Linked DNA regions of Homo sapiens: region 2 is linked to region 1. The links come from fine-mapping of genetic effects on gene expression. Tissue or cell type: whole blood. Region 1 holds a variant in brackets; the other region holds the start of a gene. All regions are shown on one strand. Distances are between the middles of the regions.

Evidence for each region. PIP is the estimated chance that this variant, and not a neighbour inherited with it, causes the effect.
Region 2: FCER2 starts here. The variant in region 1 is fine-mapped to the expression of FCER2 in whole blood (TOPMed, PIP above 0.99).

What each region holds. Positions count from the first base shown.
Region 1 is chr19:7,748,050-7,756,308 of GRCh38, reverse strand. It overlaps the pseudogene RPL21P129. Among named protein-coding and RNA genes, the nearest start is that of CD209, 4.6 kb to the right of the region's middle. RefSeq lists a silencer at 7,132-7,426, an enhancer at 7,206-7,707, a cis regulatory region at 7,927 and promoters at 7,143-8,259, 7,523-8,259, 7,143-8,259, 7,690-8,259, 7,757-8,259 and 1 more. The variant G/T (reference allele first, on the strand shown) is at 4,979.
Region 2 is chr19:7,698,761-7,706,760 of GRCh38, reverse strand. FCER2 (Fc epsilon receptor II) reads left to right here and starts at 4,630. Exons shown (of 11, transcript NM_001220500.2): 1 at 4,630-4,746; 2 at 6,916-7,022; 3 at 7,907-8,000. The coding sequence starts at 7,001. It overlaps LOC105372262 (a long non-coding RNA gene), which reads left to right. Exons shown (of 5, transcript XR_936296.2): 2 at 267-516; 3 at 825-944; 4 at 1,859-1,969; 5 at 3,640-3,681. RefSeq lists enhancers at 1,196-1,265, 4,634-4,743, 6,847-6,916.

The sequences.
Region 1 (8,259 bases):
AAATGTTACCACTACAGAAAACAACCAAACCACAACGACAAACAATAAGAGAGAAAGAAAGGAACAAAAGATATGCAAACCAACCAGGAAACAATTAACAAAAGGAAAGGAATAAGTCCTCAGACATTAGTAATAACCTGTAATGTAAATGGATTAAATTTCCCACTTAAAAGATATAGACTGGCTGAATGAATTTTTTAAAAAGACCCAACTATATGCTGTCTATAAGAAACTCACTTCACCTGTAAAGACACGTATATATACTCAGGAGGAGGCTGAAGAAGGATGATTGCTTGAGGTCAGGAGTTTGAGACCTGTCTGGGCCACATGGTAAGACTGCATCTCTAAAAAAATTTTTGTAAAGCTAGCCAGGTATGATAGCATGTGTCTATAGTCCAAACTACTCAAGGAGCTGAGGCAGGAGGATTGCTTGAGCCCAGGGTTTTGAGGGTGCAATGAGCTGATTGTGTCTGGGAATAGCCACTGCACTCCAGCCTAGGCAACAGAGTGAGACCCCATCTCTTAAAAAAAAAAACACATATAGACTAAAAGTGAAAGGATGATAAAAGAAATTCTAACAAATGGAAACAAAAAGTGAGCAGGAGTAGCTACACTGATATCAGATAAAACAGACTTTAAGTCAAAGACAGTAAAAATAGGCAAAGAAGGTCATTATATAATGATAAAGGGATTGATTCAGCAAGAGGATATAACAATTTTAAATATATGTGTACCCAACACCAAAGCCCCAGATATATAAAGGAAATCTTATTAGATCTACAGGGAGAGATAGACTTCAATACAATAATAGTTTGGGGCTTCAACACCCCACTCTCAGCACGAGACAGATAATCTAGACAGAAAAATCAACAAAGAAACATCAGATTTAAACTACAATTTAGCCCAAATGGACCTAACAGATATTTGCAGAATATTTCATCCAACAGCTGCAGCACACACATTCTTCTCATCAGCACATGGAACATACTCCAGAATAGATCACATGTTGGGCCACAACACATTTTTTACAAAATCAGAATTATATCAAATATCTTCTCAGACCACAATGGAGTAAAACTACAAATTAATAACAAGAGGAACTCTGAAAACTGTACAAATACATGGAAATTAAACCATATGCTCCTGAACAACCACTGGGTCAATGAAGACCTTAAGAAAGAAATAAAAAAAATTCTTGAAACAAATCAAAATGGACACAGAGCATACCAAAATCTGTGGGATACAATAAAAGCAACACTAAAAGGAAAGTTTAAAGCAATAAATGCCTACATCAGGGCCGGGTGCGGTGGCTCATGCCAGTAATCCCAGCACCTTGGGAGGCCAAGGTGAGAGGCTTGCTTGAGCCCAGGAGTTCAAGACCAGCCTAGGCAACATAGTGAGATGCCGTCTTAAAAACAAAAAAACACACAAAATGCCTACATCAAAAAAGTAGAAAGATTTCAAATAAACAACCTAGGAATACACCTCAAGGAACTAGGAATGTAAAACCAAACCAAACCCAAAATTAGATGGAAGGAAATAACACAAACCAGAACAGAACTAAATGAAATAAAGACTAAAAACAAAAACAAAAACAAAAACAGAGGATCAGCAAAAGGAAATTTTTTTAAAAGATAATCAAAATTGATAAACCACTATCTAGACTAACCAAGAAAAAAAGAGATAAGGCCCAAATAAACAAAATCAGAACTGAAAAGGAGAGATTACGATTGAAACCACAGAAATACACAGAAAAAAAATCATCAGAGACTATTATGAACAACTATATGCTAACCAAATTAGAAGACCTAGAGGAAATGGATAAATTCCTGGACAACCTACCAAGATTGAAACAGGAAGAAATAGAAAACCTGAAACAGAACAATAATGAGTAATGAGATTGAATCAAAGTAAAATGCCTCCCAACAAAGAAATGCCCAGGGCTGGATGACTTCACTGCTAAATTCTACCAAACTTACAAAGAACTAACATAAATTCTCAAACTAATCCAAAAAATTGAAGAGGAAGGAATTCTTCCTAACTCATTCTACCAGGCCCACATTACGCCAAGACTAAAACTAGACAATTACACCATAAAACAGAAAACAGTCCTTGCTTTCAATTGTTTTGAGTATACACCCAGAAGTGGGATTGCTGGATTATATGTAATGAAATTTTTATTTCTATTTTTTAGGAACTGCCATACTGTTTTCTGTGGTGACCGCACCATTTTACATTCCCACCAACAATGCACAAGAGTTCCAGTTTCTCCACATCTTTGCCATTATTTGTTATGTTATTATATTATTATTATTATTATTGTTTTTGAGATGGAATCTCACTCTGTCGCCCAGGCTGGAGTGCAGTGGCATGATCTTGGCTCACTGCAAGCTCTGCCTCCTGGGTTCACACTATTCTCCTGCCTCAGCCTCCCGAGTAGCTGGGACTACAGGCACCCGCCACCACACCCGGCTAATTTTTTTGTATTTTTAGTAGAGACGGGGTTTCACCGTGTTAGCCAGGATGGTCTCGATCTCCTGACCTCATGATCTGCCCGCCTCGGCCCCCAGAGTGCTGGGATTACAGACGTGAGCCACTGTGCCCGGCCACGTTATTATTTTTTGTAGTAGTCATCCTAGTGGGTGTTAGGTGGTATCTCATTGTGGTTTTAATTTGCATTTCCTGAATGATTAGTGATGTCGAGCATCTTTTCACGTGCTCGTTGGCCACTTGTATATCTTCTTTGGAAAAATGTTTAGTCAAGTCCTTTGCCCATTTTTAATTGGGTTGTTTTTCCATTGTTGATCTGTACTTTTGCTCATCTTTAAACTAGGTTTGTTGTTTTCTTACTGTTGGGTTTTAGGAGTTCTTTACTTACTTTGAATATGAGTCTCTTTTTTCTTTTGAGATTGGGTCTTGCTCTGTTTCCCAGGCTGAAGCTCACTGGCACTATCATAGCTCACTGCAGCCTTGACCTCCTGAGCTTAAGCAATCTCCCACCTCAGCTGCCCAAGTAGCTGGGACTACAGGTGTGCACCACCACGCTTGGCTAAATTTTTAAATTATTTGTAGAGACAAGATCTCACGGTGCTGCCCAGGCTGGATGATTTCTTTATATATGTCTTGCAAATATTTTTGCAAGTTTGTGGATTTTCTTTTCATTTGTCTTGATTTCAATGGGAATGCTTCTAAAGTTTCTCCAGTAGAAATGGTGTTTGCTGTGGGTTTGATGGATACCACAACCATGTTAAGGATATTTCCTTCTACTCTTAGTTGATGAAGACTTAAAAATGTAAATCATGAGTCACTGTTGAGTTTTATTGAACCCTTTTATTTGATCTACTGTGATATGTAGGTTTTCTACTTTAAATTGTTTATTTGATTTATTATTATTATTATTATTTGAGATGGAGTCTCACTCTGTAGCCCAAATTGGAGTGCAATGGCACAATCTCGGCTCACTGCAACCTCTGCCTTTCGGGTTTAAGCGATTCTCCTGCCTCAGCCTCCCAAGTAGCTGGGATTATAGGCATGTGCCACCGTGTTGGCTAATTTTGTGTTTTTAGTAGAGATAGGGTTTCACCATGTTAGCTAGGCTGGTCTTGAACTCCTGACCTTAGGTGATCCATTCACCTCAGCCTCCTAAAGCGCTGGGATTACAGATGTGAGCCACAGTGCCCGGATGGTATGCTATTATTAATAGATTTTCTGATGCCATCCATGTGTTTGTCAAAAAAACTTTATTTGATCATAATGTTGTATAGGGAGAAACATGACAAACAGTACCTCAGCTAAGTTATCAAGCTTGGCTGATGATAAGTAATAAGTAATATCCATGATAAGTAATATCATATGATAAACAAAAACAAAAAAACTAAAACTGTAAACAAAACATACATTTCAAGATGAAATAAAATAAACGGCTGATGGAAAAATAAAATGACATTAGAGGAGGAAGGACCAAGAAAAGGGGTAATAAGAATGTAGTTGGGCTGGGCGCAGTGGCTCACGCCTGTAATCCCAGCACTTTGGGAGGCCGAGGCCGGTGGATCACCAGGTCAGGAGATCGAGACCATCCTGGCTAACACGGTGAAACCCCGTCTCTACTGAAAATACAAAAAATTAGCCAGGCGTGGTGGCAGGCGCCTGTAGTCCTAGTTACTGGGGAGGCTGAGGCAGGAGAATGGTGTGAACCCGGGAGGCGGAGCTTGCAGTGAGCCGAGATCGCGCCACTGCACTCCAGCCTGGGCGACAGAGCAAGACTCCGCCTCAAAAAAAGAAAAAAAAAAAAGAACGTAGTTGGTCAGATGTGCTACAGGGGACTTTGAATTGACTATCTAGCCAAAAGTCTTATTTCCTGGCTCACACAATACTGTGGAGGCGGGGGCAGAGGGGACACTCACCTGTCCCCAGGAGCCAAAATGGCACTGACTGGTCTCCAACTTAGGGCCTGGGTGAAGGTCTTCTCCACCAAGGCCAGGTGCCCAGGTTTCCCAGCTTGGGCCAGCTCAGCTGTCACAGGGGACCAGTAGCCTATTGGCCTGCTGGTCAGAGTGGCTGGTCCCACATCACATGGCACTACAGCCGAATGTTCATCTGCTCAGCTCCATTGCCTGCTAGGGAAGATGATGGTTCTTCAAAGAGTCCTTGGTTAGTGTTACAGCTCTGCAGCTTTGATTACCGTAGTGCTGATGGCTGTCTTGCTGTCTCTCGTCAACTGCTGCCTCTCCGTCTCACCAATCATCATCCTGCTGACCGCTGATCACCATCTGATATCGTTTGGGTGTGTCCCTACCCAAATCTCACCTTGAATCGTAGCTCCCATAATTCCCTCGTGTTGTGGGAGGAACCCAGTGGGAGATAATTGAATCATGGGTGCAGTTTCCTCCACACTGTTTTCGTGGTAGTGAGTCAGTCTCATGAGACCCGATGGTTTTATAAGGGGAAACCCCTTTTGCTTGGCTGTCTCATTCGCTCT[G/T]GTCTGCTGCCATGTAAGACTTACCTTTTGCCTTCCACCTGATTGTGAGGCCTCCCTAGCCATGTGGAACCGCCCATTAAACCTCTTTTTCTTTCTTTCTTTCTTTTCTTTTCTTTTCTTTTTTTTTTTTTTTTCACAATCCAGAGGTCTTTTATTTTTTTAACACCTCTGATGCCATGAATTCATAGGGAAGAGTTTCCAGCAGCTCAGCCTCCTTCCCATTGGTTCTCACAAAGCATGCTTCTCTGGGTGGAGCAGGCTGGTGCTTCAGTTGAACCCAGGTACCTTTCTCTTTGGCTTCTTTCTGTTTCTGATTATTTTCCTTCACACATTTCAGGAAGCTATCTCAGCTCTTAGCATGCTTAATGCGCTCAATGCACACATTAATTCTCTCGGCATGAATCTTGCCCTTGTTTGTTTACAACAATGCCAACAGCATGCTGGGTAACATTGTAGACTCTTCCAGTTTTGCCACGGTAACCCTTGTGGTCCATTCCTTTTTGAACAGTACCCATTCCCTTGATGTCTACAATATCACCTTTCTTACAAATTCGCATATACGTGGCCAAAGGAACAACTCCATGCTTTCTAAAAGGCCTAGAGAACATATATTGGGTGCCTCTCCTCTTCCCCTTTGCGTTCATCATTTTGGCAAATTACTGGAAGATGGCAGTTACGGCCAAAAGGCACCTCTTTTTCTTACAAATTGCCCAGTTTCAGGTACGTCTTCATCAAGCAGCGTGAAAACAGACTAATATACCACCTCTCTGTCTTTCTTTCTTTGCCACCACTCCACCACTCTCTGATCACCACCTCTCTGTCTCACTGACCTATCACCGACGGGCGCCTCTTGCCACCTTACCAGTTGCCGTCTTGCTGTCTTGCCATCCCTTGCTGTTTCACCTCTCTGCCAATCACCAATTGCCACTGTCTCTGCTGTCTTACTAATTCTTCAGTGATCCCCACTGTCTCACTGTCTCACTGGCGATCACCATCGGCAGATCGGCAGTGCTGCACCAGTCACTGCCGCTTGCTCACTGTCTTTGTTCCTTCAAGGTCACCAAATGTTGCAGGACAGGTGAACCCCAAAATTGGGGCTTAGCTGGGGAGGGTTCTTGGCTTCGCTCTGGAAAGAATTCAAGGGTGAGCCAGTGATGTCAGACAGAGATTTTTTTTTTTTTTGAGACAGAGTTTCACTCTTGTTGCCCAGGCTGGAAGGCAATGGCACGATCTTAGCTCACCGCAACCTCTGCCTCCCAGGTTCAAGCGATTCTCCTGCCTCAGCCTCCTGAGTAGCTGGGATTATGGGCATCAGCCACCATGCCTGGCTAATTTTGTATTTTTAGTAGAGACAGGGTTTCTCCATGTTGGTCAGACTGGTCTTGAACTCCCAACCTCAGGTGATCTGCCTGCCTTGGCCTCCCAAAGTGCTGGGATTACAAGCGTGAGCCACCTTTTGTTTGTTTGTTTGTTTGTTTTTGACATGGAGTCTCACTCTGTCGCCCAGGCTGGAGTGCAGTATTGCAGTCTCGGCTCACTGCAACCTCTGCCTTCCAGGTTCAAGTGATTCTCCTGCCTCAGCCTCCCGAGTAGCTGGGATTACAGGCATCAGCCACCATGCCTGGCTAATTTTGTATTTTTAGTAGAGACAGGGTTTTACCATGTTGCTCAGGCTGGTCTCGAACTCCTGACCTCAGGTGATCTGCCCGCCTCAGCCTCCCAAAGTGCTGGGATTACAGGCGTGAGCCACCGGTTTTGTTTGTTTGTTTTTGAGATGGAGTCTCACTCTCTCGCCCAAGCTGGAGTGCATTGTCACAGTCTCAGCTCACTGCAACCTCTGCCTCCCAGGTTCAAGCAATTCTTCCGCCTCAGCCCCCTGAGTAGTTGGGACTACAGACACGTGCCATGCCTGGCTAATTTTTTTTGTATTTTTAAAAGAGATGGGGTTTCACCATGTAGCCAGGAGGGTCTCGAACTCCTGACCCTGTGATCCGCCCACCTCAGCCTCCCAAAGTGTTAGGATTACAGGCGTGAGCCACCATACCTGGCCTTAGACAGATATTTTTTATGTAATGATACTGCTCCTTGTGAAGCAGGGCTAACTCATAGGCAGTGCACCCAGAGTCAACAACATACAAGCTCTTGGCAGCTGTAGTTATACTCATGTCAACTCACTTTCAGTTATACGTCAGTTAAGGGGTGGGTCAATGCAAATTGAGGAGCAGGTTCTTTAGAAGTTTTAAGGAAAAGGGCGAAGATGTCCAGGTTGTTTCCATGGAAACAGGTGGGAACTTCTAGGTCATTGCCATGGCATCGGTAAACAGTCATGGCACTGGAGGGAGTATCTTATGCCCACGAGCAATGAGGCAGCCAGGGATTGCTTTTGTTGCCATCTGCTGGTTCCTGCTGGTTTCTTCACATCATCTCATCTGGACCAGATTCTGTATGGGTCTGCAGGGTTGTGGCCAGAAAACAAGTTCTTCCAGTTTCCTACCTCATTACCATGTGAAATGTTACCATTAGGAGAAACTGGGTTCACATTAGGGATCCCTAGGTGAGGGATTTACATATGGGAAATCTCTTTCCTACATTTGCAACTTTGCTATAAACCCAAAATTATTCTAAAATTAAAACATTTTAAAAAAGAATACAAAGTAAAGATCAGGTCGAAAACCACTATTTGATTATGATACATGTATGTATTTTCCATCTTTAAACTGAGATTTAACACACATGTGGTAAATGCACATCTCTATGATCAAAATATAGAACATTTCCAGCATACAGAAACCCCGTTGTCAATCTCCACCTGCTCCTTCCTGATAATTCCCATTCTGAGTCTCCTTCAAAGGTTAGTTCTGCCTGTTCTCAAAATTCACACAAAATCAAATCTTACAGTGTGTACTCACTCTGTCTGGGTCCTTTTACTGTTTTGTGAGATTTATCTATGTTATTAAATGTACTAGTACTTTGCTTTTTCATTGCTGTATAGTATTCCAATCTTTGAATATGCCATTATATTTTTTATCATTCACCTGCTGGTGGACACGGGGTTGTTCCAATTTCAGATCATTCTAAATAAAGCTGCTATGGATCTTTTCTTTCCTCTTTGATACTATTTCACTCTTTGGTTAACAGCATGCACTGTGGAGGCAGACTGGGTTCAAGTCTCAGCCCCACCATCTACCAGCTGTGTGACCTTGGGCCAGTTAGCTAAACTTGCAGTGCCTCCTCAGTTTCCTCATCTGTATAATGGAGGTCATATGATCTACTGAAGGGTA
Region 2 (8,000 bases), 49 kb after region 1:
GGGTGAGGACCCTAAGGGGAGCTCTCATGGGGGCTGGAGTTGGGTAAATAGGGAGTGAGTGTTTCATGGGGACACGGTTTCAGTTTGGGAAGATGAGAAAGTTCCGGAGACGGATGGTGGTAATGGTTGCACAACAGTGTGAATGTGTTTCATGCTCCTGAATGGTGCACTTAGAAATGGCTACGATGGTAAATTTTATGTTATGTATATTTTGCCACAATGAAAACAAAATAAAGCGTGATCTAGGAATCATGTTTTCAAAGCAGCGCTTCTCAACCACGGTGACTCTTTCGGCGACTAGTGGCCAGAGATGCTTCTAAACATCCAACAATGCACAGGACAGCATCCCAGCGAGGAATCATCAGTCCCAAAGTCAACAGTGCAGGGTGGGAGAGACCCAGCTTTGAACACACCTCCTCCTGGAAGCCCCCCTGGATTTGACACACCTACTGCCCTTCCTCCCCACCCCTGCACCCTTTCCTTCTCCCCTTCGTAACCCCAGGAGAGGTTAAACAGGTAGGAAAGCCCAGGGCTGTGTCGGGATGGGGTTAGAGTCAGGGTCGCCAGGCTCCATCTCGTTGGGACACAGCGCCAGGCCCTGTCCCAGGTGTGGGGGTTCTGTGATTAGAGCCGCGGACGTGCCTCCGTCCTGTGCAGAGCAGAGGTTAGGGCTGGGATCAGAGCATCGTGGGGTGAGGGGATCAAGTTGTAGTTGAGCTGGGGTTACGGTCAGGGCCGGGGCTGGGATGAGAGCTCAGCTGGAGATGGTTGAGGGTTGTTGTTGCTGGACACCCTAAACTCCTTCCTGTTGAATTCTGACCTAGGTCAAACGAGGAGCGAGACGCGGCCTCCCCCAACATGCAGAGGATCCCAAATCTGAAAGAAGAACCGACACCCACAGATCTGGGGCCCACATCCGCACAATTTTCTGTTTTTCCCCCGAAGTGAGCAAGAGGCGTATTAATACCGCAGAGGGGAAGCGGGTGGGGCAGTCCCGTGACTGGGTCCTTGGGGCCCCAAAGCATCCTAGTGTTTGAGCTGAGTCTTGGCAGGAACCCAGCAGGCAGGGGGCTTTCACCCCTGGGAAGGACATGATGGGGCCGGTGGGGTTGGGCTGGGGCACCTGGGCTTGTAGAACTCAGAAACACCAAATTCCAGCTGGGCACAGTGACTCATGCCTGTAATCCCAGCACTTTGGGAGGCTGAGGCAGGAGGATCACTTGAGCCCAGGAGTTTGAGACCAGCCTGGGCAACATAGTGAGACCCCATCGCTACCAAAAATTTAAAAAATTAACCAGGCGTGGTGGTGCGTGCCTGTGGTCCCAGCTACTCAGGAGGAGAAAGTAGGAGGATCTCTTGAACCTCAGGAGGTTGAGGCTGCAGTGAGCCGAGATCGCACCACTGCACTCCAGCCTGGGAGACAGAGCGAGACCCTGTCTCTAAAAAAAAATATGGACAATTTTGTTGTATAGTTTAATTTAGTAGCAATGGTTGCTGGGCACAGGAATTTGTTTGTTTGTTTGTTTTTTGGGATCGCCCAGGCTGGAGTGCAATGGCGCAATCTCAGCTCACTGCAACTTCCGCCTCCCAGGTTCAAGCAATTCTCCTGCCTCAGCCTCCCGAGTAGCTGGGATTACAGGCACCTGGAACCACTTCTGGCTAATTTTTGCACTTTTCGGTAGAGACGGGGTTTCACTGTGTTGGCCAGGCTGGTCTCAAACTCCTGACCTCAGGTGATCTACTCGCCTCAGCCTCCCAAAGTGTTGGGATGACAGGTATGAGCCACCACGCCCAGCCGGACACAGTTCTTAGTGACTTGTGTGCATATTAACACATCTAATTTTCACCACCACCCTAGGAATTAGATGCTTTGGTGATCAATGCTGCCTTATGTGAAGCACAGAGAGGTTAGGTGACTTGCCAAAGGTCACACAGCACTTCAATGGAAGAACCAGGAATTTGAACACAGGTAGTGTGGGTCAGGCATCTGCAGCCCTAGCCACTATGCCACCTAGACTTCTATATACTAAGACCCCTTGGCACTTTGCCCACCCTCCTCATCCTTCCCAAAATGTGTCCCCTGATCCTTAACACCCTCCCCACTCTCAACTGGGGAACTCCAAATCCCCACTCCTGGGTGGGCTACCTCCCATGTCTCTCACTCCAGAAGACACCCCCCTGTGCCCCTACAACCCACCTCCCAACCAGGAGGGGGCTGGGCTGGGCCATCCACTAGGGCTGGACGTTCCCACTGTGTCAGGGAGGGGCCTGGCTGAAATGTCCCCTGGACCCTGCACTCCAGAACAGCTGGGACCATGCTGCCTTGTCTGTCACCCTGGACCGAGTGACCCTTGGTGCATGCCTGTTGAGTGAATGACTGACTCTGGTGGTCTGAGGCTGTTCATTTTGGGTCCCAAAATGTCCCCTCCACCTTGATCTGGGGTAATGGCCGAGGACCAAGATGGTAAAGAAGTGAGGGAGGGTCCGGGTGCGGTGGCTCATGCCTGTAATCCCAACACTTCGGGAAGCCGACGTGGGTGGATCACTTGAGACCAGGAGTTCAAGACCAGCCTGGTCAACTTGGTGAAACCCCATCTCTACTACAAATACAAAAAATTAGCCAGGTGTAGTGGCGCGTGCCTGTAATCCCAGGTACTTGGGAGGCTGAGGCAGGAGAATCACTTGAATCCGGGGAGGCAGAGGTTATGGGGAGCTGAGATCATGCCACTGTACTCCAGCCTGGATGACACAGCAAGACTCTGTCTCAAAAAAAGAAAAAAAATCAAAAAGGAAGGGAAAGAGTTGGCCGCTGAGCATTGGAGAGGTGGCTGGGGGCTGCTGAGTGGACATAGGGACAGCATTTGAGGCCAAGCCAGGGTGGGGTCACTGGGGGATTAGTCTTGAGGGCAGGTCGGGTTGGGGATCCTAAGGGGGGGTCTGCCGTGGTGGCCAGGTGGGAGTGAGGACCCTGGAGGGTCTGTTTTGGGGGGCAAGACAGGAGGTAGAGCCCCAGGGAAGGCTGTCATGGGGGCAGGATGAGAGTGGGGAGGCCATGGAGGAGGCAGTCCCAGGGACAAGGCAAACCAGGCAGGGGGAACCCTAAGAGGGGGATGTCACCTGGTCCAGGGGGAAGAGGGAGCAGCTGTGGGGATGGGGAGAAGCAGGTTATTTTTTTGAGACGAGCCAGGCGCGGGTGCTGGGTGAGCGGTGGGGTGGAAGATCGGGAAGTGCTTGGACAAGGCCTGGACCTGGGCCGGGGTGTCTGGGTGGATGGACGGACTGTCCCACCAATGGGGACACACGAGGAGAAGGAGGAGGAAGCTTGGGAATAAGTCCAGCTGGGCCATGTTGTGAGGACATGGGGATGAAGTCTTAGTTCCAGGATGGGGCTGGGATGGAGTTTGGTGTTTCTTTTCTGTTTTTCTTTCTTTTTTCTTTTCTTTTTTTTTTTTGTGAGACAGAGTTTAGCTTTTGTTGCCCAGGCTGGAATGCAATGGCGCGATCTCGGCTCACCGCAACCTCTGCCTCCCGGATTCAAGCGATTCTCCTGCCTCAGCCTCCCGAGTAGCTAGGATTACAGGTGCCCACCACCATGCCCAGCTAATTTTTTTTTTTTTTTTTTTTTTTTTGTATTTTCAGTAGATACAGGGTTTCACCATGTTGGCCTTGAACTCCTGACCTCAGATGATCCACCTGCCTCGGCCTCCCAAAGTGCTGGGATTACAGGCGTGAGCCACTGTGCCCGGTCTCTCTCTCTCTCTTTCTCTCTCTCTTTCTTTCTTTCATCTCACTGTGTTGCCCAGGCTGATCTTGAACTCCTGGGCTCAAGTGATCCACTCACCTCTGCCTCCCCAGTAGCTGGGATCACAGGCATGCACCACCATGCCCTGCTAGTTTTTATAGTTTTTGTAGAGACAACGGCTTGCTATGTTGTCCAGGCTGGTCTTGAACTCCCAGGCTTAAGTGATCCTCCCACCTCAGCCTCCCAAAGTGCTGGGATTACAGGCGTGAGCCACCGTGCCCAGCCAAAACTGTCCATATTTGACCTGAATATTATCTCACGTATCTTTCTTTCCCCCCGCTTCCCTCCTTCCCTCCTACTCCTCCTTCTCCCTCTCCTTCCTTCTGTCTTTTTTTTCCCCTTCCTCTGCCTCTCTCTCCTCTTCCCTTTTTTCTTGCTGGGACTCAAACCTGGGACATTTGACCTGGGAGCCTATTTGCTCAATCATCAAGAGACATAATCTCATGGTGGGGTGTCTGCTGGTAAGTGCCGGGTGGCAGGATCCCAACTCCAGGCCGTCCTTCTAACCCAAGAGGCCCTGCCTCTGCCTAGAGCCTTCCGTGGCTCCCCAGGGCCCTCTGTGATCGGCCATAGTGGTATGATTCAGTGTGCAGTAACAGTGGTTCACATCTTGACGCTACCACTCACCTCCTTCAGCCCTGTGGGAACTTGCTGCTTAACATCTCTAGTTCTCACCCAATTCTCTTACCTGAGAAATGGAGATAATAATAACACGGACTTCACCCGGGTGTGGGGAGCACCAGGAGAGGCCATGCGTGTAATGTTATCCGGGTGGCAAGCCCATATTTAGGTCTATGAAAATAGAAGCTGTCAGTGGCTCTACTTTCAGAAGAAAGTGTCTCTCTTCCTGCTTAAACCTCTGTCTCTGACGGTCCCTGCCAATCGCTCTGGTCGACCCCAACACACTAGGAGGACAGACACAGGCTCCAAACTCCACTAAGTGAGTACGTATCTGGTGTGTTGGGGGTTGGCCATGGGAAGTGGAGATCAAAGCGCCCTTGGAAGAAACGACCTTGGGCTGAGCCTCAAGGGATGACCAGCAGGAGGTCACAACCAGAGAAGGGAGGTGGTGGGTGGTGAGGGGGCGGGGGTGGGGGCCGCAGTGTGGACAGAATCTCGAGGCATTCGAGTCCCTGATTTGGGGAAGTGAAAGCAGGCCATCTGGTCTGAGATGAGCTTGGTGAGTGCGCTGGGCCGATCATAGAGGGCCCTGGGGAGCCATGGAAGACTCTAGGCAGAGGCAGGACCTCTTGGGTTAGAAGGACGGCCTGGAGTTGGGATCCTGCCACCCAGCACTTACCAGTAGACACCCCACCATGAGATTATGTCTCCAGATGATTGAGCAAATGGGCTCCCAGCTCAAGGGTCCCGGGTTTGAGTTCCAGTCCCACCACTGCGTGATGGGGACAAATGACTTACCCTCTTGGAACCTCAGTTCCACTGAGAGAGGCCCCACAGAATGAGGACAGTCCCCCAGCATCCTGCCAGTAGGTTTACTGAGCACCTACTGTGTGCTGGTGCTTTGAATACTCCCAATTTACAGATGAGCAAACTGAGCTGCTCATCCAGGAAGAAGCCAGGACTCGGACTCAGGTCTGTCCAGCTGCCTCCCTGGACAGTTCCAGTCCCAGGATGGTCTCTGGGTTCCTCTCACAATGTCAAAAGGGCCAGCTTGAGCTGCCGCTAATCAGAGCCTGGCCGCGCCACACCCCACCTCCCTGAGGCTCCGAGAGAAGGGACTTACCTATAGTCAAGCAGCGAAAGAAGGTAGCCCGTGACCTCCAGGCCTGAAGGACCCCAAGTCCCATGCTCCTCAGCACATAGTAGATGCTTTAAAGTCAGAGGACTTGGTCGGGCGCAGTGGCTCACGCCTGTAATCCTAGCACTTTGGGAGGCTGAGGAGGGCAGATCACCTGTGGTCAGGAGTTCGAGACCAGCCTGATCAATATGGTGAAACCCTGTCTCTACTAAAATACAAAAATTAGCCAGGTGTGGTGGTGGGTGCCTGTAGTCCCAGCTACTTGGGAGGCTAAGACAGGAGAATCGCTTGAACCCGGGAGGTGGAGGTTGCAGTGAGCCAAGATGGTGCCATTGCACTCTAGCCTGGGTGACAGAGCGAGACTCCATCTCAAAAAATAAAAAAATAGGCCATGCACAGTGGCTCACGCCTGTAATCCCAGCACTTTGGGAGGCCGAGGCGGGCGGATCATGAGGTCAGGAGTTTGAGACTAGCCTGGCCAACATAGTGAAAACCCGTCTCTACTAAAAATACAAAAATTATCTGGTCATGGTGGCACGTGCCTATAGTCCCAGCTACTCGGGAGGCTGAGGCGGGAGAATCGCTTGAACCCAGGAGGTGGAGGTGGCAGTGAGCCGAGATCGTGCCCCTGCACTCCAGCCTGGGCAACAGAGCGAGACTCCATTTCAATAAATAAATAAATAAATAAATAAAGTCAGAGCACTTTACAGATGCCCTGGGGACATTGGCAGAGGAGAAGGCTGAGGCCTGGGTTATGGGCTCTTAGCATTTCTCAGTGGGACGTGGCACAGAGTAGATGTTTCATAAATGTTTAGAATCCGAAGACCCACTGTGCGCAGCCCGGCACCAAAAACCTCAGGTATGCTGTGATCTCATTGGATCCTATCTTGGCCTCATGAGTTGGGTGCTGTCATCAGCCCATTTTACAGAGGGGAAAACTGAGGCTGAGAATGGTTGAATCCTTGGCTGAGGTCACACAGGCAAGGCAATTATAATAAACGCTGGTGATATTTTTAGCACAGATCACCAACCAACAGTATAGGTGTTCTTGGTATCATCATTTTACGAATGAGGAAAGAAGTTTCCAGGTTAATTAAGCCATTTGTCAAGATCTCATGGGTGCACCTGCTGTGTAGCTCAAGTGTGATGGGCTCTGGAGTGCCCCACTTCTGATCTCAGGCTGCTATCTCTCCACACCAGCTGTGTCTCCCTGCTAACCACGCTAGTGAGTCCAGATTGTAGACTAAACAAAATCAGCAAATGGCCCCTGAGTGCCACCAAGTCCCAGATGCTATCCTGTGCTGGTAACTAGGATTTGATGGCTCACCCTAACCATCATTAAATCCCAAATCAGCCAGAGCTGTGATTGTGCCCGCTGAGTGGACTGCGTTGTCAGGGAGTGAGTGCTCCATCATCGGGAGAATCCAAGCAGGACCGCCATGGAGGAAGGTCAATATTCAGGTAGGAGGACTCTCTGGTTCTAACGTTGGCAGAAGCAATGACCCTTAGCTACTGCCTTTCACCCAGAAGAGAAGCGGGGCTCCCCAGTCCCTCTCTGGGAAAGAGGGTGAATTTCTAAGAAAGGGACTGGTGTGAGTAAGGAGGTGAGGCCGGACTGACTTTCCTGGCACAGAGCCAGGAAGGAGTGGCAAATTGAGGGCCCCTCCTTTTTCTGATTCAACACCCTCCTGACAAAAAAAGAAAAAGAAAAAAAAAAAAAAACGGCTTCAGCTAGGGAGCGGGGAGCCCAATAGAGTCAGAGGCCAAATAGAACAGGAACTTGGAACAAGCAGAATTTAGCATAATGAATCCTCCAAGCCAGGGTGAGTGCAGAGGGCCAGGGGCTTGAGGTGGGACATCCAGATAGACCTTTGGGTGGGGTCTGGGAGAGGTTTGGAGGTCTGGATGTTGGATGACACCTGGGAAAGTGGCTGGGGAGTGGCTCCGATGTTGGGGAAGAACTGGGACTCAGTGTCCTGGGTTTAGGGAAGGGACTCCAGGTTGGGGACAGGTGCAGAGGTGTAAGGGTGGGCGTTGGGGCTCAGAGGGGAAGGAAAAAGCAGGACCTAGTCTTCTGGAAGTGAAGCTGGGGGCCTGGCATTGGTTGTTGGGGCTGAGGGAGTCTTAGCTCTTAGTCCCAGATCTGTCTCTGTGGTCAGTGACCCAGCCCTGAGTCAGGTAAGGAAGCTGTGCAAATGGAGCTGGGGGTCCACTGAGACCCTTTGCTTCAGTGTGGGCTCTGGACAAGCTCCCAGGCTGTCGGGGGCTCTGGGTAATGGAGAGACGGACAGGGCCAGCATCCAGCTTCACCCTGCACCCATAGTCAGTCCCTCCACCCCCGGCAGAGATCGAGGAGCTTCCCAGGAGGCGGTGTTGCAGGCGTGGGACTCAGATCGTGCTGCTGGGGCTGGTGACCGCCGCTCTGTGGGCTGGGCTGCT